Homo sapiens: one gene and its partners. The protein of the gene in region 1 interacts with the protein of each later gene in a biochemical or structural test. Each region holds a gene or a part of one and is shown in the gene's direction. Other genes may lie near its edges. The genes, in order: IFRD2, OAS3 and UBE2O.

The links.
Region 2: the proteins of IFRD2 (region 1) and OAS3 form a complex in vitro, tested with the Homo sapiens proteins (one study listed by BioGRID).
Region 3: of the proteins of IFRD2 (region 1) and UBE2O, one has a biochemical effect on the other in vitro, tested with the Homo sapiens proteins (one study listed by BioGRID).

Annotation. Positions count from the first base shown.
Region 1 is NC_000003.12:50,289,327-50,296,378, reverse strand, and holds the start of IFRD2 (interferon-related developmental regulator 2), read left to right. Parts: upstream 1-3,949; 5' UTR 3,950-4,104; coding exon 4,105-4,162; intron 4,163-5,699; coding exon 5,700-5,819; intron 5,820-5,906; coding exon 5,907-5,991; intron 5,992-6,084; coding exon 6,085-6,209; intron 6,210-6,292; coding exon 6,293-6,450; intron 6,451-6,616; coding exon 6,617-6,667; intron 6,668-6,750; coding exon 6,751-6,932; intron 6,933-7,018; coding exon 7,019-7,052. Other genes in the region: HYAL3 (hyaluronidase-3 isoform 1 precursor), read left to right, coding at 777-1,670, 2,658-2,747, 2,864-3,133. UniProt on the Homo sapiens protein: Ribosome-binding protein that acts as an inhibitor of mRNA translation by promoting ribosome inactivation. Associates with the P- and E-sites of the ribosome and inserts a C-terminal helix into the mRNA exit channel to preclude translation.
Region 2 is NC_000012.12:112,948,450-112,955,554, forward strand, and holds part of OAS3 (2'-5'-oligoadenylate synthase 3), read left to right. Parts: intron 1-411; coding exon 412-756; intron 757-2,243; coding exon 2,244-2,526; intron 2,527-7,105.
Region 3 is NC_000017.11:76,450,091-76,457,675, reverse strand, and holds the start of UBE2O ((E3-independent) E2 ubiquitin-conjugating enzyme), read left to right. Parts: upstream 1-4,523; 5' UTR 4,524-4,534; coding exon 4,535-4,951; intron 4,952-7,585. UniProt on the Homo sapiens protein: E2/E3 hybrid ubiquitin-protein ligase that displays both E2 and E3 ligase activities and mediates monoubiquitination of target proteins. Negatively regulates TRAF6-mediated NF-kappa-B activation independently of its E2 activity.

The DNA of each region.
Region 1 (7,052 bases):
ATCCCCCTACCCTCACCTCTCACCTCTTCTGCAGGTCCCTTATCCCTGCAGAAGTCTCCAGATCCACCTTGGCCCTGAGGCCATTGATGGGAGGATGCCTGTCCTTTGCCTTTACCCCCCACCTGGCTCAGGAGACAGGGTGGCTGTTTTCTTCCCCATTCACTCATTACCATTCACTGAGCACCTACTGTGTGTCAAGCCCTGGACGGGACATAGGCAATGGGTAACTAGACAAACAGGCATACAGTAGCAGGATCCATGTGGCACAGGGGAGGTACAGAGGCTTTGGGAACCCAAGTGACTTCACTCCACCTGGGGATCCAGGAGACCTCCCAGGGCAGTGATGTCACAGCAGAGACCTGAGTGCTAGGTAGGAATTAAACCAGGCAGGTGAGGAGGTGGGAGCTGACTGTTCTTGGAAGAGGGAACAAGGTGGGCAGAGGAAAGAAGGGGACTTGTGACAGTTGTGGGAGGACACAGTGGTGTATTGACAAAGACGGAACATGGGAGGGAATGTACCCTCAGCTCACTGTAAAGCCCGCTTTGGTGTGCACCTGCCACTCGATGCCCGGGGCATCATAGCCAGCTTGCGGTGTGGCTGCTTTAAAAGGCCCAAGAGACCCCTGGGGAAACATGCTTTCCCCAGCTCCTCCTGTAAGGATGGGGAGGAGCTGGGGGAGCTTTCCTGGCTTTCCCTGCCATGTGGAAGGTGTGGCCATAGCTGCGGACTCTAAGCTTACACCCCCCTCTCTCCTGCAGGTTTCCATCCTTGGGGAATGACCACGCAACTGGGCCCAGCCCTGGTGCTGGGGGTGGCCCTGTGCCTGGGTTGTGGCCAGCCCCTACCACAGGTCCCTGAACGCCCCTTCTCTGTGCTGTGGAATGTACCCTCAGCACACTGTGAGGCCCGCTTTGGTGTGCACCTGCCACTCAATGCTCTGGGCATCATAGCCAACCGTGGCCAGCATTTTCACGGTCAGAACATGACCATTTTCTACAAGAACCAACTCGGCCTCTATCCCTACTTTGGACCCAGGGGCACAGCTCACAATGGGGGCATCCCCCAGGCTTTGCCCCTTGACCGCCACCTGGCACTGGCTGCCTACCAGATCCACCACAGCCTGAGACCTGGCTTTGCTGGCCCAGCAGTGCTGGATTGGGAGGAGTGGTGTCCACTCTGGGCTGGGAACTGGGGCCGCCGCCGAGCTTATCAGGCAGCCTCTTGGGCTTGGGCACAGCAGGTATTCCCTGACCTGGACCCTCAGGAGCAGCTCTACAAGGCCTATACTGGCTTTGAGCAGGCGGCCCGTGCACTGATGGAGGATACGCTGCGGGTGGCCCAGGCACTACGGCCCCATGGACTCTGGGGCTTCTATCACTACCCAGCCTGTGGCAATGGCTGGCATAGTATGGCTTCCAACTATACCGGCCGCTGCCATGCAGCCACCCTTGCCCGCAACACTCAACTGCATTGGCTCTGGGCCGCCTCCAGTGCCCTCTTCCCCAGCATCTACCTCCCACCCAGGCTGCCACCTGCCCACCACCAGGCCTTTGTCCGACATCGCCTGGAGGAGGCCTTCCGTGTGGCCCTTGTTGGGCACCGACATCCCCTGCCTGTCCTGGCCTATGTCCGCCTCACACACCGGAGATCTGGGAGGTTCCTGTCCCAGGTAAGTGGAAGCTGAGGTCTAGGGGTCTGAGTCAGGAGGTATGGCCCTGTTCTAGGAAGGTCCCAGGAGAAGACCTTGCCTAGGGGTTGGTCCTAATCTAGGCGTTCTCAGCGGAAGGCCCTGTCCTGGAGCATCTGATGAGGGAGGCATGGCTTTGCCCTGGAAGATGTTGAGGGGTAGGGAGGCCCAGCCTTTGGAGTGCTGGCCTGAGGGGAGATATTCTGAGTGGAAGGCCTGAGAAGCCACTCAGAGACTCGATACAAAGGGGCCCTACTTGGGCTGGGTGAGTGTCTCACACCTATAATCCCAGTACTTTGGGAGCCTGAGATGGAAGGATTCCTTGAGGCCAAGAGTTCGAGACCAGCCTGGGCAACATAGTGAGACCCCAACCTCTACCAAAAAAACATTTGAGACAGAGTCTTGCTCTGTTGCCCAGGCTGGAGTGCAGTGGCACCATCTCAGCTCACTGCGGCCTTCACTTCCTGGTTCTAGTGATCCTCCCACCTAAGCCTCCTCCCGAATAGCTGGACTACAGATGCATACCACCACACCCAGCTAATTTTTATATTTTTGTAGAGATGGGGTTTTGTCATGTTGCCCAGGCTGGTATTGAACTCCTGGGCTCAAGTGATTCTCCCGCTTTTGCCTCCCAAAGTGTGGGATTACAGGTGTGAGCCACTGTGCCCAGCCTAAAAAATTATTAGCCAGGTGTTATGCACCTGTAGTCCCAGCTGCTTGGGAGGCTGAGGTGGGAGGATTACTTGATCCCAGGAGTTCAAGGCTGCAGTGAGCTATGATCATGCCACTGCACTCCAGCCTGGATGACAGAGTAAAACCCCGCCTCTAAAACCAAACCAAACTAGAGAGTCCCTACTGTAGAGTTAGAATCAGATTGTGACAGTGAACCAGAAGAGTTTCTTGAATGTGGATGTGTGCCCACATGGATCTGGCCAGCCCAGCACTGGCTTAGCAGCTCTCTGCCTCCAGGATGACCTTGTGCAGTCCATTGGTGTGAGTGCAGCACTAGGGGCAGCCGGCGTGGTGCTCTGGGGGGACCTGAGCCTCTCCAGCTCTGAGGTGATCATTGCCCCTTTGAGCCTGCCATGTAGCACATGCTGGGGTCCCAGGGTGGGGGACGGCCATGTCAAGATTATAGAGCAGGCATATTGACACATATCTTCCCTTCTCCTCAGGAGGAGTGCTGGCATCTCCATGACTACCTGGTGGACACCTTGGGCCCCTATGTGATCAATGTGACCAGGGCAGCGATGGCCTGCAGTCACCAGCGGTGCCATGGCCACGGGCGCTGTGCCCGGCGAGATCCAGGACAGATGGAAGCCTTTCTACACCTGTGGCCAGACGGCAGCCTTGGAGATTGGAAGTCCTTCAGCTGCCACTGTTACTGGGGCTGGGCTGGCCCCACCTGCCAGGAGCCCAGGCCTGGGCCTAAAGAAGCAGTATAAAGCCAGGGCCCCTGCCACTGCCTCTTCTTTTCCCTGCTGCCACTTTTCCAGTCCTGGAACTACTCTGTCCCACTCTTGCTCTATTCAGTTTACAGTCAACCCTCCCAAGCACACACCCCGCTTCCCTTGGAATCCCTGAGGGGTAGAAGGGGCCAGAAAAAACGCTTATAAAACCAGAGGCCCTCTGAGATCATGTGAGTCCTCCATGGCAAGGAAGCAGTTCCAGGGAGAGTCAGGTTCCAGCTAGTTAGGGCTGCCAGCCTAGGGCTTTGTGCCTACACCTCACTAAGCCCATGGAGAGGTCACAGATGGGCCGTGCACGGGCAGATGGGCCCCAAAAAATCTTGGCGAAGGTCGGTAAAGTGCTAAGCTGTTGTCTGCACTCTTTCATCATAAAGTCACTTTTTTCCACTGCCTGAGGTTTGGCTGTTGCTCCTGTTATCCCAAGCTCTAAGCCCTTCCCATGGTCCCCAGACCCAGGCAGGGGTAGGTCTCGTCTGGAGTGTCCCGCTGCCAAGTGCCCTGAGAAGCCAGTCCTGCCTTGGTGCTCCACTGAGGGACGCTTCGGAGTTAACCACCGTGCACTTGTTCCCGACGCGGGGCTGGGGCGCGCGCAGGGCATTGTGGGTGCATAGTTCAGCCAGCGCGTCGTCGGCTGGTGGGCCCCAGGCGTGGACTACCATTCCCATGGTGCTCTACGCGCAGCTAGCCGCCGTCGCCTGCGCGCTCAGGCCTCTGGGATTAGTAGTTTTAGCCTCGTGGATGTGGGCCTGAATCGGATGGCCTGGAACTCGCCTTCCCGGCGACCTGTTTGGCAGGGCGGGGCGCCTCGCGAAGATGGTGGCGCGCGTGGCGTGTGGCTCCCGTCGTCTGGCCAAGTCTCAGCGCAGCGCACCGGCCGGCGTCTCGTTGGCCTGGAGCCCACACCCACCGGGTCCCTGACCCCGCGCCCCCCGCGCCCGGTTCCCGGCATGCCTCGCGCCCGTAAGGGCAACACGCTCCGGAAGGGTGGTCAGCGCCGTGGAGGAGGTGAGTGGGGTGGGGGGCGCGGGACAGCTGTATGAGCGGCGGGCGGGGGTCCTGCTGGATCCCCTTGGTTGTTCTCGAGGGCCCTGGGTGGGGAACCCCCTCGGCCAGCCCCACGCAGCTTCCCATAACTCTACCGAGGCTGGCACGTGCCCCAGCAGTCATTGGCCACGTGCGTGCCCAACTTGAGCTCGCTGCCCACTGCCTGTTGGGAGTCCGCGCTCCCAGCGGTGACCCGGCCAGCCCCTCCGGGCCTCAGTTGCCTGCTGGGTGGACAAACTCACCGGACAGGGCAGGAAGCCAGTCCTCTTGCCAAACCCTGATCCTTTCCTGGACTGGTCAAGGAAGTTGGCGGGAGTCCTGGCCTGCTCCGGTGAAGAGAGGGAGGGGGCTCTGTTGGGAAGCTACCTGGTTAGGGCCTTGGCAGCTTGGCAGGCCTGACTCCACAAGGTAGCTGAGTATCCTGGAGCCTGAGGCAGTCTTGGGACTCGCTTATCAGCTTAGACCAGGAGCCTATCTTAATGCGTTAAACACATATGTTTACTCTGCTGGGATGGGGTGCCTACCACGCACAAATTTATTTATTTTTATTCTTGAGGGGGAAGGGAGGAGGGCCGGGCACAGGAAGGAGGAAAATACCTAGGCACAACTTTAAACTGGTCACCACCATGGTGGGTTTTGGGTGGGGGACATCTAATAGGGTGTGGAACATGTTCACTGAGTGGTGTCAGCCCCAGACTTAGGACTCAGGGAGGCCTGGGGGGAAGTGCTTCTGGGTGAGTCCTGAGAGGATGGAGAAGAGAGCAAGTTGTACAAAGACCTGGCAGCTGGAGGGACCCCAGCGCAGTGGAGTGAATGAGGGAAGGCTGGGCTGCTCCGGCAGGTAGAATAGTAAGATAAAATGGGAGCAGGCTGGGCGTGGTGGCTCACACCTGTAATCCCAGCACTTTGGGAGGCCAAGGCAGGCAGATCACCTGAGGCCAGGAGTTCGAGACCAGCCTGACCAACATGGAGAAACCCTATCTACTAAAAATACAAAATTAGCTGGGTGTGGTGTCGTATGCCTGTAATCCCAGCTACTCGGGAGGCTGAGGCAGGAGAATCACTGGAACCCGGGAGGCAGAGGTCGCAGTGAGCCGAGATGGCGTCATTGCACTCCAGCCTGGGCAACAAGAGCAAAACTCTGTCTCAAAAAAAAAAAAAAAAAAAAAAGGTGGCGGGGAGCAGAGGCCAGTGCGCAGGCTGGACTTTGTCCTGCAGATGAGGGGTGTGAGTAGTTCTTAGAAGTAGGGCCAGCCTGGTGATCACACCCTGTCCAAAACTCTGCCACAGCAGCCAACCTTGCCAATGTCAGCCCTTGGCCCTGGACAGACCCCACACACAGGAGTGCACCAGCCCTACTGAACTGACCCTTGGCTTTGGTTTTTCATCTCTGAGAGGGACACCATTCTATCTTTTGGGATTATGAGGTCGAGTGAGGTACCCCCAGCCATCCCTCATCAGTAGAGGCAAGTTGAGTGTCCTATTCCACCTTCTCCAGGTGCCCGGAGCAGTGCCCAAGCTGACTCGGGTTCCAGTGACGATGAGGCAGCCAGTGAGGCCCGCAGCACCGCCAGTGAATGCCCCAGCCTTCTCAGCACCACTGCAGAGGACAGCCTTGGTGAGAGCGGGTGGAAGTTTGACAGGGGCTTGGTGAGGGCTCCATGGGCTGAGGACAAGAAGCGGTGCTGACCAGGTGGCCTTGCAGGGGGGGATGTCGTGGATGAGCAGGGCCAGCAGGAAGACCTTGAGGAAAAGCTGAAGGAGTATGTGGACTGTCTCACAGACAAGAGGTACCCCTGGCTGCCAGCCAACTCCTACACCCAGCTCCAAGTGTGATCAAGGGAGGGCTGGCCCATATGACCCCCCTTCTCGACCTCCCCCAGTGCCAAGACCCGGCAGGGTGCTCTTGAGAGCCTGCGCCTGGCCCTAGCGTCCCGCCTACTCCCCGACTTCTTGCTGGAGCGCCGCCTCACGCTAGCCGATGCCCTGGAAAAGTGCCTCAAGAAAGGTTGGACCTGGGGGTGTGTGGGAGACTTAAACTGGGCAGACACTGGCCCTTGCTGCATGGGCTGACTGGAAAGCATCCCACAGGGAAGGGCGAGGAACAAGCCCTGGCTGCTGCTGTGCTAGGCCTGCTCTGCGTGCAGCTGGGCCCTGGACCTAAGGGTGAGGAGCTGTTTCACAGCCTGCAGCCTCTGCTGGTCTCTGTGCTCAGTGACAGCACAGCTAGCCCTGCTGCCCGGCTCCACGTGAGTGTGCCTGTGCCCCATGAAACCCTTCCTGCACCTTATCCCTCAGCAGAGTGGTGGGTTCCCCCTATCTTCAGCCTCCTTTACTCTGAGGGGAGTGAGCTCCAGGGCTGGGAACCCAGGTTCACCCGCTGACCGTGGCATTGCATTGCCCTTCTCCCAACAGTGTGCTTCTGCCCTTGGCCTGGGCTGCTACGTGGCTGCCGCTGACATCCAGGTGAGGGGTCTTTGGGCACAGGTGGTAGAGCATCTAGGGCTGTAACTCTGCCTCTGAGCTCCCCTGCCTCTCTGTGCTCCTAGGACCTGGTCTCTTGCCTTGCCTGCTTAGAAAGTGTTTTCAGCCGGTTCTATGGCTTGGGGGGCAGCTCCACAAGTCCTGTGGTTCCTGCCAGCCTGCACGGCCTGCTCTCTGCTGCCCTGCAGGCCTGGGCATTGCTGCTCACCATCTGCCCTAGCACCCAAATCAGCCACATCCTTGACAGGTAGGGGTGGCTGTCCACTGGGAGGGGGAGGGGATCTCAAAGAGGCCCCCAAGCCACACATATAGCTCAGCCTGCCCCTTCCCTAGGCAGCTGCCCCGGCTGCCCCAGCTCTTGTCCAGT
Region 2 (7,105 bases), on another chromosome or scaffold:
CTGAGATCACTCCATTGCACTCCAGCCTGGGTGACAGAGTAAGACTCCGTCCCAAAAAAAAAAAAAAAAAAAATGCACAGGGCATCAGGCATGTAAAACAGTCTTATCACCAAGCTCAAGCTGAAACTGCCCGGGGGAAGGAGTCCTTTGTTTTTCTGCAGCTATGGTCTGGTTACCAGACCTTTCTGCCCATCACAAGGGCACCCATTTTGCAGTTTATCCCTCCAGAAAGGCACCTTTTTCAACTCTGCCCAAAGATGGCCATGTGCGTTAGCCATGGCCCTCCCACTTCCCCTCTCTGAGCCTCAGTCACCCTGACTGTACAAAGGGCGGGAGCTGGGGAGAGAAGGCATTGGGTTGATGCAGAAACCACTGCGCCTGGCTGAGGCAGCTCCTTCAATGACCTTCCAGGGCCTTCCACGTGCTGGATGCTCAGGTTTGGGCCACCCCATCCAGCTAGACCCTAACCAGAAGACCCCTGAAAACAGCAAGAGCCTCAATGCTGTGTACCCAAGAGCAGGGAGCAAACCTCCCTCATGCCCAGCTCCTGGCCCCACTGGGGCAGCCAGCATCGTCCCCTCTGTGCCGGGAATGGCCTTGGACCTGTCTCAGATCCCCACCAAGGAGCTGGACCGCTTCATCCAGGACCACCTGAAGCCGAGCCCCCAGTTCCAGGAGCAGGTGAAAAAGGCCATTGACATCATCTTGCGCTGCCTCCATGAGAACTGTGTTCACAAGGCCTCAAGAGTCAGTAAAGTGAGTTGGGCCAGTGGAGACACAGGGGGGACCCTATCGAGGGATCAGCGTGGGGAAGGGAAGGAGTTACAGCAATGGAGCTGAGGTTGGGCTGGGGAACTGGACGGCCCAGGAAGGATGATTTGCTGGCTTAAATAAAATATATTTAAGTGCCAGCTTAGATTTTCTTTTTTTTAATGATACAGTTTTTAAAACACTATTACAAGAATCAGATCACTTCCCTCCTCAGCTCAAAATTCTCCATGGTTTCACAGGGCGCAGAGGCCTCAAGTCCTACAGGATGGGCCCTGGTCTCCCTCTGGCCTTGACTTACTCCACACTGGCCTCCTGGCTGCTCTGAGCTTACCAGGTCCACAGAACAATTCAAGGCCTCTGTAGTGGCTGTTTTCTCTTCCTAGAAGAAAATGAGAATTCTCTTCCCCAACCATTTGGCTCTCTCTCTCTCGCTCTCTCTGTCTCTCCTCTTCAAGTTTCTTGATCTGATGTCCTCGTCCACTGAGGCCTGACCACACGATTTAAAATTGCAGTCTTGCCCGGGCACGGTGGCTCACGCCTGTAATCCTGGAACTTTGGGAGGCCAAGGTGGGCAGATCACCTGAGGTCAGGAGTTCAAGACCACCCTGGCCAACATGGTGAAACCCTGTCTCTACTGAAAATACAAAAATTAGCTGGGCATGGTGACGGGCCCCTGTAATCCCAGCTATGCAGGAGGCTGAGGCAGGAAAATCGCTTGAACCCGGGAGGCGGAGGTTGCAGTGAGCTGAGACCATGCCACTGCACTCCAGCCTGGGCGACAAGAGTGAAACTCCGTCTCAAAAATAAAAATAAATAAAAATAAAATTGCAGTCTTGCACTACCAGCCCCCTTTCTGTTCTGCACAGCACTTAGCATTTTCTCAGGACCTATTGTTTATTGATGGTCCCTTCCTTCCCTCCCCCAGCCAGCATGTAAGTTCCAGAAGAACAGAAATTTTGTATCCTCTCTTCTTCTTTCTTTCCTGCAACAAACATTTAGTGAGCACTTACATGTATCGGATATGTGTGATATCCCGTGTGAAGGAGGGAGGGAGGGAGGGAATTGATGGAAACAGGGCAACAGAGGACAATTGCAGGCCCTATTAGGGCTTGGGACCTCAATTTGCAACTGCTGGCCCAGATGTGCAGTCAGTAGATGCTGCAGATAGTAGGCTAAAATGTTTGGTCGCTGCCCCTACTTAATCCCACCTCCATTATCTGTTGCTGCAGTTTGGTCTGACTTAGCTCAGTCTTCATGGATCAGAGGGCAGGTGCAGGCAGATACAACTTGACTCTCTGTCACAATTCTAAGAGGTCACAGGACCCATGCAGTCGACCTTTGTCATAGTCCCCAGACCTGACATCAGCAAGAGGGCAGGTTCCAGGCTGTAGATGGGGCGCAGGTGATGGGATCGTAGTCCGACTCCCAGGCTCCTAGAGGGTCCCTGATCTGAGCTGTTCTTCCCTCCACAGGGGGGCTCATTTGGCCGGGGCACAGACCTAAGGGATGGCTGTGATGTTGAACTCATCATCTTCCTCAACTGCTTCACGGACTACAAGGACCAGGGGCCCCGCCGCGCAGAGATCCTTGATGAGATGCGAGCGCAGCTAGAATCCTGGTGGCAGGACCAGGTGCCCAGCCTGAGCCTTCAGTTTCCTGAGCAGAATGTGCCTGAGGCTCTGCAGTTCCAGCTGGTGTCCACAGCCCTGAAGAGCTGGACGGATGTTAGCCTGCTGCCTGCCTTCGATGCTGTGGGTGAGGGCGCCCAGCCTGTCCCTTGGAGAGTGATAGGGACCTCAGGCGCCCATCTAACAGGGGCACCTGCCATCCTCTTTGTGATCCTAATTCTCCTACTTGACCAAGCATTGAAAACTACTTTGAGATACTGAAAGTAATCATCACCATCAAATCTTACAACTATTTAGTGCTTTAACTTTACAAATATTTTAATTATGAAATGTTTCAAGCATACAGAAAACTACAGACGTCACACACCCATGTAGCCCAATTCAGATTTAACAAATGTTAACAGTAGGCATATCTGCTTGGTATTTTTTTAAAGAAATTTCTCATGTTATAATTTTCTTCCTTATTTTAAAGGGTTTACTTTATGGTTCATTTTTTTTTAACTTTCGGAGGTGAATCTTAGCTTAGTAATTATCAGTTTTAGTCAATGCAATTAAAGCTACCCATTTCCCTTTCAGTATCACATTAGCTACAGGGCAAATCTTTTGTTTGACATGCATAATTTTTATTATCATTCCGGTCTAAATATTTAGTACTTTTAATTATGACATTATTGTTTGTTCTTTCATCCATGAATATTTGGAAGTAGCTTTCCAAATGAATGTTTTGGAGATTTGTTTGCTTTCGGCATTTACTTATTATGTTTTTTAAAACTGTAGTCAGAAAACATACTTTATGTGATATCAATTCTTTGGAATTTGTTGGCATTTCTTAGATTGCCCATGGTTGAAAAGAATGCATGCTTTCCATCCAGGCATGGTGGATCACACCTGTAATCCCAGCATTTTGGAAGGCCAATGCGGGCAGGTCACTTGAGGTCAGGAGTTCGAGACCAGCCTGGCCACAGTGAAACCCCATCTCCACTAAAAATACAAAAAAAAAAAAAAAAAAAAAAAATAGCCTGGCATGGTGGCACGCACCTGTAATCCCAGCTACTCGGGAGACTGAGGCAGGAAAATCTCTTGAACCTGGGAGGCAGAGGTTGCAGTGAGCTGAGATTGCACCACTGCACTCCAGCCTGAGAGACAGAGTGAGACTCTATCTCATGCTTTCCATTGCTGAATGCAGACTTCTATATAGGTCCTTTAGATCTAGCTTATGACTTCTTGCTCGGATAATTTTTTGTTTGGTCTCTCAATTTCTGAGTAAAATATCTTAAAATCTCCTGCTCTGAATGGATATTTATCCCTTGTTCCTTGCAATTCTGTAAATTTTGTTTTTAATATTTTGAGGCTATGTTATTGGGAACATATAAGTGCATAATATTATATTTTATTGGATTGTTCTTTTATTATTAAGTAATAATCTTCATTTCTGAAAGTTATCTTTGTCTTAAAGCCTTTTGTCTGACATTAATAGGGCTTTAGTCCTCCTTTGTCAGCATTTTCCTGACGTACCCTCTCTACTCTTTATTTACTAGCATGTGTTATTAAATTGTACCCATTACAGGCAGCACAAAGCTAAAAGACAAAAATGAAAGAAGCAACAATGATATAATGATCTTCAAGGGTTTGATAATATCTTGGAACTAAACTTCCAGACACTAATAATAGGGGAGATTATTTCTTTTGTTTTTGTTTTTACAATCTATGCAAATTAAACCCTATTAATATAATTAACAAATTTTTTCACCATTGCTACTTGATTTCCTGTTCTTCCTTCTGGATTCATTTTCCTTCTTACAGAAATACATCTTTTAGTACTTTTTCAGAAAGGGTTTATGAGTGACAAATTTTTCTCAGACTTTGTCTAAAACCATTTCTGTTTCACCTCCATGCTTGAATGGGATGCTTGACACTTGTTTTCCTTAGTTCTGCTGTCTTCTTACCTGTTGTTGCTGATGAGAAGTCTCTGTCAGTTATTGATTTTTTGTTGTTAATGATCTGTTTTCTGTTTGCATGCATGAATTTTGTTTGTTCATTTTCTTTTGATTTCCCTTTCAGTGGCTTTTAAGACTTTCTCTTGGTTCATAGTATCCTTCAGTTTCTCTTTGATGTATCTGTGTATAGAATTCTTTTTTTCTATGATTTTTTTATTATACTTTAAGTTCTAGGGTACATGTGCACAACATGCAGGTTTGTTACATATGTATACATGTGCCATGTTGGTGTGCTGCACCCATTAACTCGTCATTTACATTAGGTATATCTTCTAATGCTATCCCTCCCCACTCCCCCCACCCCACGACAGGCCCTGGTGTGTGATGTTCCCCACCCCGTGTCCAAGTGTTCTCATTGTTCAGTTCCCACCTATGAGTGAGAACATGTGGTGTTTGGTTTTCTGCTCCTGTGTTCGTTTGCTCAGAATGATGGTTTCCAACTTCATCCATGTCCCTACAAAGGACATGAACTCATCCTTTTTTATGGCTGCATAGTATTCCATAGTGTATATGTGCCACATTTTCTTAATCCAGTCTGTCATTGATGGACATTTGGGTTGGTTCCAAGTCTTTGCTCTTGTGAATAGTGCCACAATAAACATATGTGTGCATGTGTCTTTCTAGCAGCATGATTTATAATCCTTTGGGTATATACCCGGTAATGGGATGGCTGGGTCAAATGGTATTTCTAGTTCTAGATCCTTGAGGAATCACCACACTGTCTTCCACAATGGCTGAACTAGTTTACAGTCCCACCAACAGTGTAAAAGTGTTCCTATTTCTCCACATCCTCTCCAGCACCTGTTGTTTCCTGACTTTTTAATGATCGCCATTCTAACTGGTGTGAGATGGTATCTCATTGTGGTTTTGATTTGCATTTCTCTGATGGCCAGTGATGATGAGCATTTTTTCATGTGTCTGTTGGCTGCATAAATGTCTTCTTTTGAGAAGTGTCTGTTCATATCCTTTACCCACTTTTTGATGGGGTTGTTTGATTTTTTTCTTATAAATTTGTTTAAGTTCTTTGTAGATTCTGGATATTAGCCCTTTGTCAGATGAGTAGATTGTAAAAATTTTCTCCCATTCTGTAGGTTGCTTGTTCACTCTGATGGTAGTTTCTTTTGCTGTGCAGAAACTCTTTAGTTTAATTAGATCCCATTTGTCAGTTTTGGCTTCTGTTGCCATTGCTTTTGGTGTTTTAGTCATGAAGTCCTTGCCCATGCCTATGTCCTGAATGGTATTGCCTAGGTTTTCTTCTAGGGTTTTTATGGTTTTAGGTCTAAGATGTAAGTCTTTAATCCATCTTGAATTAATTTTGTATAAGGTGTAAGGAAAGGATACAGTTTCAGCTTTCTAGATATGGCTAGCCAGTTTTCCCAGCACTATTTATTAAATAGGGAATCCTTTCCCCATTTCTTGTTTGTCTGTTTGTTTGTTTGTTGTTGTTGTTGTTGTTGTTGTTTGAGATGGAGTCTCGCTCTGTTGCCTAGGCTGGAGTGCAGTGACGCGATCTCGGCTCACTGCAAGCTCCACCTCCCAGGTTCACACCATTCTCCTGCCTCAGCTTCCCTAGTAGCTGGGACTACAGGTGCCCGCCACCACATCTGGCTAATTTTTTTGTATTTTTTAGTAGAGACAGACAGGGTTTCACCATGTTAGCCAGGATGGTCTTGATCTCCCGACCTCGTGATCCACCCACCTCGGCCTCCCAAAGTGCTGGGATTACAGGCGTGAGCCACTGCGCCTGGCCCCATTTCTTGTTTTTGTCAGGTTTGTCAAAGATCAGATGGTTGTAGACATGTGGTGTTATTTCTGAGGGCTCTGTTCTATTCCATTGGTCTATATCTCTGTTTTGGTACAGTACCATGCTGTTTTGGTTACTGTAGTATAGTTTGAAGTCAGGTAGCGTGATGCCTCCAGCTTTGTTCTTTTGGCTTAGGATTGTCTTGGCAATGCAGGCTCTTTTTTGGTTTCATATGAACTTTAAAGTAGTTTTTTCCAATTCTGTGAAGAAAGTCATTGGTAGCTTGTTGGGGATGGCATTGAATCTATAAATTACCTTGGGCAATATGGCCATTTTCACAATATTGATTCTTCCTATCCATGAGCATGGAATGTTCTTCCATTTGTTTGTGTCCTGTTTTATTTCACTGAGCAGTGGTTTGTAGTTCTCCTTGAAGAAGTCCTTCACATCCATTGTAAGTTGGATTCCTGGGTATTTCATTCTCTTTGAAGCAATTGTGAATGGGAGTTCACTCATGATTTGGCTCTCTGTTTGTTTGTTATTGGTGTGTAGGAATGCTTGTGATTTTTGCACAGTGATTTTGTATCCTGAGACTTTGCTGAAGTTGCTTATCAGCTTAAGAACATTTTGGGCTGAGACGATGGGGTTTTCTAAATATACAATCATGTCATTTGCAAACAGGGACAATTTGACTTCCTCGTTTCCTAATTGAATACCCTTTATTTCTTTCTCCTGCCTTATTGCCCTGGCCAGAACTTCCAACACTATGTTGAATAGGAGTGGTGAGAGAGGGCATCCCTGTCTTGTGCCAGTTTCCAAAGGGAATGCTTCCAGTTTTTGCCCATTCAGTACGATATTGGCTGTGGGTTTGTCATAAATAACTCATTATTTTGAGATGCCTCCCATCAATACCTAGTTTATTGAGAGTTTTTAGCATGAAGGGCTGTTGAATTTTCTCAAAGGCC
Region 3 (7,585 bases), on another chromosome or scaffold:
TGGTCCACATGCTTAAGGGTTTAGTCTAGTGAGGGAGAGATCAGCATGTAAAATCAAGGAGTCTTACCTCCAACCTGGCAGTATCCTGATAATCTATGTAAAGCACTTAGTAGAGTATCTGGCATGAAGTTACAGCTCAATAAGTGATAGCTATTATTAGCCATTATTACAAGAAGCCGCAGAATAAACACAACACGTCTTCCAGGAGTGCCGATATTACTCAATGATTAGGGAGGAAAGGGCATTAGTTTTTACATTAAAACAACAAACATAGGCATACTCTGGAGTACAATGCAAAACTCACTTGATTTTTTGACAACAAAAGCAGATTTGAGGCCGGGTGCGGTGGCTTATGCCTGTAATCCCAACACTTTGGGAGGGCAAGGCGGGTGGATCATTTGAGGTCAGGAGTTCGAGACCAGCCTGGCCAACATGGTAAACCCCGTCTCTACTAAAAATACAAAAATTAGCCAGCCGTGGTGGTGGGCGCCTGTAATCCCAGCTACTCAGGAGGCTGAGGCAGGAGAATCGCTGGAACCTGGGAGACGGAGGTTGCAGTGAGTCAAGATCACGCTACTGCACTCCAGCATGGGCGACAGAGTGAGACCCTGCCATGAAACAAAAAGCAGATTTGAGGTCTGCACTGCCTTATCCCGCCGTGGGACACATAGACACATGGACTCCCCTGTGCAATCAGGAGTTCTTCTGAGGGAAGCCTAAAGAAATAGCATAACTACAAAAGCCCCTGCCCTTAGAGTGGGGAAACTCCTCAGGTTACTACCTGTTACCTTAGGCGCCAAATTCCTTGGGCCCTATTTCTTCATTGGTAAAATGAGGTTAAAAACTCTCTATATCCAAGATTGTGATAACAGACAAGATAATGTGCTTGGAAGTACCTGGTACAATGCCTGGTCAATAATATGTGCTTAATAAATGCTATGTTATCAGGGGGCAAGAAAACAGGGCTGAAAGGGTCATGGGAGGCAGAACAGAAGCTACTATGTTACTGCTGTTTAATCTCCCAGGTCTCTACAGGAGAGGGAGTAGGGACCTGCGTCCTTACAGCAGTGATTCCAGATGGTCATTTGGCATTGTGTTCTGGGATGGGAAGGCCATGGTTTGAGAACCCAGCCTTGCCCCAAAATCATATCCTAACTCCCCCTTCAGCTGATTCAGCCCATTTGTTCTATATCTTAGTAGATAAATTTTCTAAGATTTGGGTCCATTGACAACCACCCTGATCCCAATATTACATCAATACTCTATTAGTACTTGGCCTAAGACATCTTAAGTACTTAGGCTGCCATCTGTTTTGTGCATGTTCTTTTTTTTTTTTTTTTTCCTGAGATGGAGTTTTGCTCTTGTTGCCCATGCTGGAGTTCAATGGCTCGATCTTGGCTCACCACAACCTCCACCTCCCGGGTTCAAGTGATTCTCCTGCCTCAGCCTCCTGAGTAGCTGGGATTACAGGCATGGGCTACCATGCCTGGCTAATTTTGTATTTTTAGTAGAGATGGGGTTTCTCCATGTTGGTTAGGCTGGTCTTGAACTCCTCACCTCAAGTGATCCGCCTGCCTCAGCCTCCCAAAGTGCTGGGATTACAGGCGTGAGCCACCGTGCCCGACCTTGTGCATGTTCTTTTAACTTTTCTCTCTCTTTTTTTGAGACGCAGTCTCGCTCTGTCGCCCAGGCTGGAGTGCAGTGATGTGTTCTTGGCTCACTGTAACCTCCTGCTCCCGGGTTCAAGCGATTCTCCTGCATCAGCCTCCCGAGTAGCTGGGACTACAAGCATGCGCCACTACACCTGGCTAATTTTGTGTTTTTAGCAGAGACGGGGTTTCACCATGTTGGCCAGGGTGCTCTTGAACTCCTGACTTCAAATGATCCATCTGCCTTGGCCTCCCAAAGTGCTGGGATTACAGATGTGAGCCACCACACCCAACCAACTTTTCTATGAACATAGTTCTGTATCTTCAGGATCCTGTAAACAACACAAAGAGCTGGGATTCTGCCTTCTTTGAAGAACCTAAATACTGTAATATCCAACTTACTAGTCTTTCGTTGATGATCGTGTAGAAAAATGTGGAAAAAATGATGTTGACTGAGAAAGGTTAGGGCCAGATCTTGTTTTCCTTAACAATCCATTTAAATCTGTCCTCTGAGAATGTATCTAAACCCTTTGAAACTTAGGTGACACATTAAATTAGAGTTAGTTTTTTTCTTTTGAGATAGAGTCTCACTCTGTCACCCAAGCTGGAGTGCAGTGGTGTGATCTAGGCTCACTGCAACCTCCAACCCCCAGGTTCAAGTGGTTCTCGTGTCTCAGCCTCCCAAGTAGCTGGAATTACAGGCGCCTGCCACCTTGCCCAGCTAATTTTGGATTTTTAGTAGACATGGGGTTTTGCCATGTTGGCCAGGCTAGTTTTGAACTCCTGACCTCAACTGATCCACCCACCTTGGCATCCCAAAGTGTTGGGATTTCAGGCGCAGTCAAAGTGTTGGGATTTCAGGCGTGAGCCACTGTGCCCGGCCTAGAGTTACTTTTTTTTGAGACGGAATCTCACTCTGTCGCCCAGGCTGGAGTGCAGCGGCGCGATCTAGGCTCACTACAACCTCCACTCCCCAGGTTCAAGTGATTCTCCTGCCTCAGCCTTCCGAGTAGCTGGGATTACAGGCGGCTGCCACCGCGCCCGGCTAATTTTTGTATTTTTAGTAGAGACAGGGTTTCACCATCTTGGCCAGGCTGGTCTTGAACTCCTGACCTCGGGTCTCCCACCCGCCTCGGTCTCCCAAAGTGCTGGGATTACAGGCAAGAGCCACCACATCCAGCCTTTTTTTTGTTTTTTGTTTTTTGAGACAGAGTCCTGCTCTGTTGCCAAGGCTGGAGTGTAGTGGCATGATCTCGGCTCACTGCAACTTCTGCCTCCCAGATTCAAGCAATTCTCCTGCCTCAGCCTCCCAAGTAGCTGGGACTACAGGTGCACACCACCACGCCCAGCTAATTTTTGTACTTTTAGTAGAGAAGGGATTTCGCCATGTTGGCCAGGGCGGTCTTGAACTCCTGACCTCAGGTGATCAGGTGATCCATCTGCTTCTGCCTCCCAAAGTGCTGGGATTACAGGCATGAGCCACCACGCCTGGCCCTAGAGTTACTTTTTATATTTTATTTATTTTTATTTATTTATTTTTTTGAGACAGAGTCTTGCTCTGTTGCCCAGGGTGGAGTGCAGTGGCGCGATCTGGGCTCACTGCAACCTCAGCCTCCCAGGTTCAAGCGATTTGCCTGCCTCAGCCTCCTGAGTAGCTGGGACTACAGCCATGTGCCACCACGCCCAGCTATTTTTTTTTTTTTTCCGTATTTTTAGTAGAGATGGGGTTTCGCCATGTTGGCCAGGATGGTCTCAATCTCTTGACCTCGTGATCCGCCCACCTCAGCCTCCCAAAGTACTGGGATGACAGGTGTGAGCTGCCGCGCCCGGCCTACTTTTTATATTTTAAAATGACAATATGGAGCAGACCATAACAGTTCTGCCAGTCTGGAATTTAGTCTAGGCAGGGAGTTTGGAAATAGTACAACAATGGTTAAGCTTATCGAAGGAGCTAAATGCCAGGCACTGTTCTACTTCACTTAATCCTCCAATTGCCCAATGAGATGAGTATTGCTATTATCATCCCTATTTCACAGATGAGCAAATTAAGATGAAAATAAGTTAATCAGTGTGCCTATTTTTATAGATTAGTAAGTGGCAGTGCCAAAAATTGGAATCCGTGGTCCCCACTCTTAGCTACCTTACTATACTACCTCTTGCCATTCATTCTTGGCTTCAGGGAGCTTTGAATTTATCTGCATGGATTTGTAGCCAAACCACTGGGACCACTGATCCTTTTGTTACCTTTCTCTGGGCCTCCTTCACCAGCTTCTGGGTCAACTTCTGAGGGGTCATGACGTTCGAACTGCTTGGAATTCCTGAATACAGTGCATTATACATATGCTCTACACGTATCTATTATAGCCTTACAAGTTGGAGTTGTTTGTTATCTATTTAATGTGTATTTGTTTTGTCTCCCCAACTAGACTGGAAACACCTAGAGGACAGGGACAGTATCTTTCTCTTTCTGCAATGCTCCCAGTGCCTGGGGGCTAGGCTAGGACGCCAAGGGAGCTCATTAAAAGTTGTTGACAGTCTCTCCACCATCCTGTGCCCCACCCCGACCACTCCCCTCTTCCTCGGTGGCCACTCCACTTCCTCCTCCCGGGTCCCCGCCCCTTCTCGCTCCCTTTAGTTGAATCCTCACTGGTCTCGCCCCTTCTTAGTGGATTCCATCCTGCCCCCGCCCCCCGCGGCATCTTCAGCGTCCCCTAGCGACGAGGCGGTGGCTCCTAGCAACTGCATCCCGGCTCCCTGACGACGGCGCCACGCAGGGACACGTCAGCGCGCTATGGCCCCGCCCCCGGCGCCCGCTGGTCCCGCCTCCCCGCGCCTCGTTCGCCGCCGCTGTCGCCGCCGCCGCCCGAGACTCGCGCAGAGCAGTTATGGCGGATCCCGCAGCCCCCACGCCCGCAGCTCCCGCTCCAGCCCAGGCCCCGGCTCCAGCCCCGGAGGCAGTCCCGGCCCCAGCCGCAGCCCCCGTCCCGGCGCCGGCGCCCGCCTCGGACTCGGCCTCCGGGCCGTCCTCGGACTCCGGCCCAGAAGCCGGCTCGCAGCGCCTGCTGTTTTCTCACGACCTGGTGTCGGGCCGTTACCGTGGCTCCGTGCACTTCGGGCTGGTGCGCCTCATCCACGGCGAGGACTCGGACTCGGAGGGCGAGGAGGAGGGCCGCGGGAGCTCGGGGTGCTCCGAGGCCGGGGGCGCGGGCCACGAGGAGGGCCGGGCCAGCCCCCTGCGCCGCGGCTACGTGCGCGTCCAGTGGTACCCGGAGGGCGTCAAGCAGCATGTGAAGGAGACCAAGGTGCGGCGGGCGGGGGCTGGGCGGCGCGGGCGGCAGGGGGTCGGCGGCCGGGCCGAGGCCAGGGAAGGACGGCGTGCAGGGCCCTGCCCGGAGCGGTGCCACTGCAGTGGCCGACGCGGGAGGACAGCCCCAGTGGAGGGTACACTCCATGCAAAGTCATTGCAGCAGCTCTGGGCGCACACGCCAGCCAGGCACTGCTGGCCCGGGACCGGGCGGGCCCTGGGCTTCCCGACTTGAGGGGACTTCTAAGACATGTTATGCTGTGGTGTCGGCCTCGAGATTTAGAGACGTGGACCGACTCCCGTGGGGACTCAGGTTCTGGGGCGCGTTCGGCGTTACACCAGTGCGGCGTTTTGCTGACCCCCAAGGAGCTCGGTACTGCATTGTGCATCCAGAAATGAAGGCCGTGCCGGGTCCGTGCAGGGAGGGGTTGTGGGCATTCCAAAACAAAGATAGAGGTGAAAATCCCAGCCGAACCCAAGAAGTTCACTAGCTTACAGGCTGCATTATGGTGAAGCCACCCAGCCTCTTTTTGTTTTACCCTGCTGCCTCCTTTTAATTGCTGCAGGGAACTTTGTGAGTAAAATCATTAGCAATCAGAGCCCCGGTATGAATAGTACTTGGGGGGGAGGATTCTGACAGCTGCGACCGGGATTGATGACTCCTAAGTGCATATGGACTCCTTGAAAAAAATAATCCAGAACCCTGGGTAGAGGGGAGTCACCAATTTGGAAACCCGAAGGTTTTTTCTTGACCTGAAGCTGTTAAGCAGACATCTGACTCCCGTATGGTTTTTGGGGTGATGCTAGTGAGTATAGCAGTTTTACAAAACAAAGAGGCTTGTCATCATAAACCCGAAACCTTGAACCCGGGTTGGTTTGGTGGCTTGTTTTCCAGAATGTGAATTCCTATCAGTAATTGACACACACACACACACACACACACCCCCCTGTATCTCACACCCCTTCTTTCTCTCCTACTTCCCCTCCCCTTCAAGAAAACATTTCTAAGCAGGAATCAGGCCTACGCTGTTTTAGGTCCTTGGGAGGTTGAGAGGTCTGATTTCAGGGGAGGGCACTTTGGAAGTTGATCTGGGTTTCTCACACAGTGGGAGACAAAGACTACAGAGGAACGGGGTTTCATGTCAAACTACAAAGCGGGGTCTGTGACAACGGCTTGAGAAGGAAAAAGGCCCCACTCCAGAGAAGAGCACATGATCCATTTCCTAGAGGCAGAAGTGACTGCTGATACCAGCGGGGTCTTTTTGTTGGGGATGCACATACATCCACAGACACAAATCCACACACAGGACCCTGCTTCCCCTCAGAGAAATGTGAATCAGGCAACAGCTCTGAGACTTGGAAGGAAAATTATCAGTCCATTTACAAGAGTATTTGGAAAATATTACTTTTGTGCAACAGAATGCTTGTTAAAAATTACCCAGTATTGTGTCAGTAAAAGAGGGTTATTGCTGTATACTGTGTGACACCAGATGATTGCTGGTGTCTTTCTGTGAGTTTTTAAGAATGTTTTTCACCACCCATCTATTTGAGAGATTCGTGATTTTTGGAACGCAACTCATTTGACTGCAGCATCCTCTGTGTTGTGGCCTCCTGCCCTAGGACTCAGGGAGGTAGGCCCAGCTCACTACTGGGAGCCGCTATGTTTATCAGTTGTTGTTCCCGTCCGTCTTGACTTTGGTGGTTAACTTTGTTTGCAGTTATGCTCCGTTTGCCTCCTGCACTATGTGTAATTATACAGAGTTTGACTTGAAATACCTATTTTGGAGTTAAATCGAAAACAACGGCCGGGTGTGGTAGCTCATGCCTGTAATCCCAGCACTTGGGAGGCCGAGGCGGGCGGATCACCTGAGGTCAGGAGTTCGAGACCAGCCTGACCAACATGGAGAAACCCTGTCTCTACTAAAAATACAAAATTAGCTGGGCTTGGTGGCGCATGCCTGTAACCTGAGCTACTCGGGAGGCTGAGGCGGGAGAATTGCTTGAACCAGGGAGGCGGAGGTTGCGGTGAGCTGAGATGGCACCATTGCACTCCAACCTGGGCAGCAAGAGTTAAACTCTGTCTCAAAAGAAAAGAAAAAAAAAACAACAACTTTGAGGCACCACTTTGGATAGATTTTGCAGCTGGCCTCCTGTGACTTGCTTTGAATTTGTTGAAATCCGTTTTGTGGCTCGGTGGTGGTATTTTGTCATTGTAGCATCTGGGTTTAGCAAAAGCCAAGGGACGCAGAAATTCCAAGGAAGTGGTGGAATGGGATGCCCATTTATGGGTGGCAAGATATAGTTCTTTTAGGATTTAGAATAGGTTTGTTTTGGAGGGTGGAGTTTATACCTGATAGGTAGCTCTGTTACCATGAGCTATAGATACAGGTGACTGATTAGCTGAATGTCTCCTGGTCTGTTACTGACCACCAAGCAGGGTGGTAGGGTGGGTCCTGGGACCTTGCAGAACTGTGGCTTAGGATGATTTTTCTTCTCACCTCCTGCTCCTTATGAATTCCATCAAGGTGATAGTATGCCGTAAAGGAAAGACCATTAGACCAAGATTGACTAATCTAGTTATGAGATTTGAGAACCCAATTATTGACAAAATAATGTAGTGGCAGATTTTTTT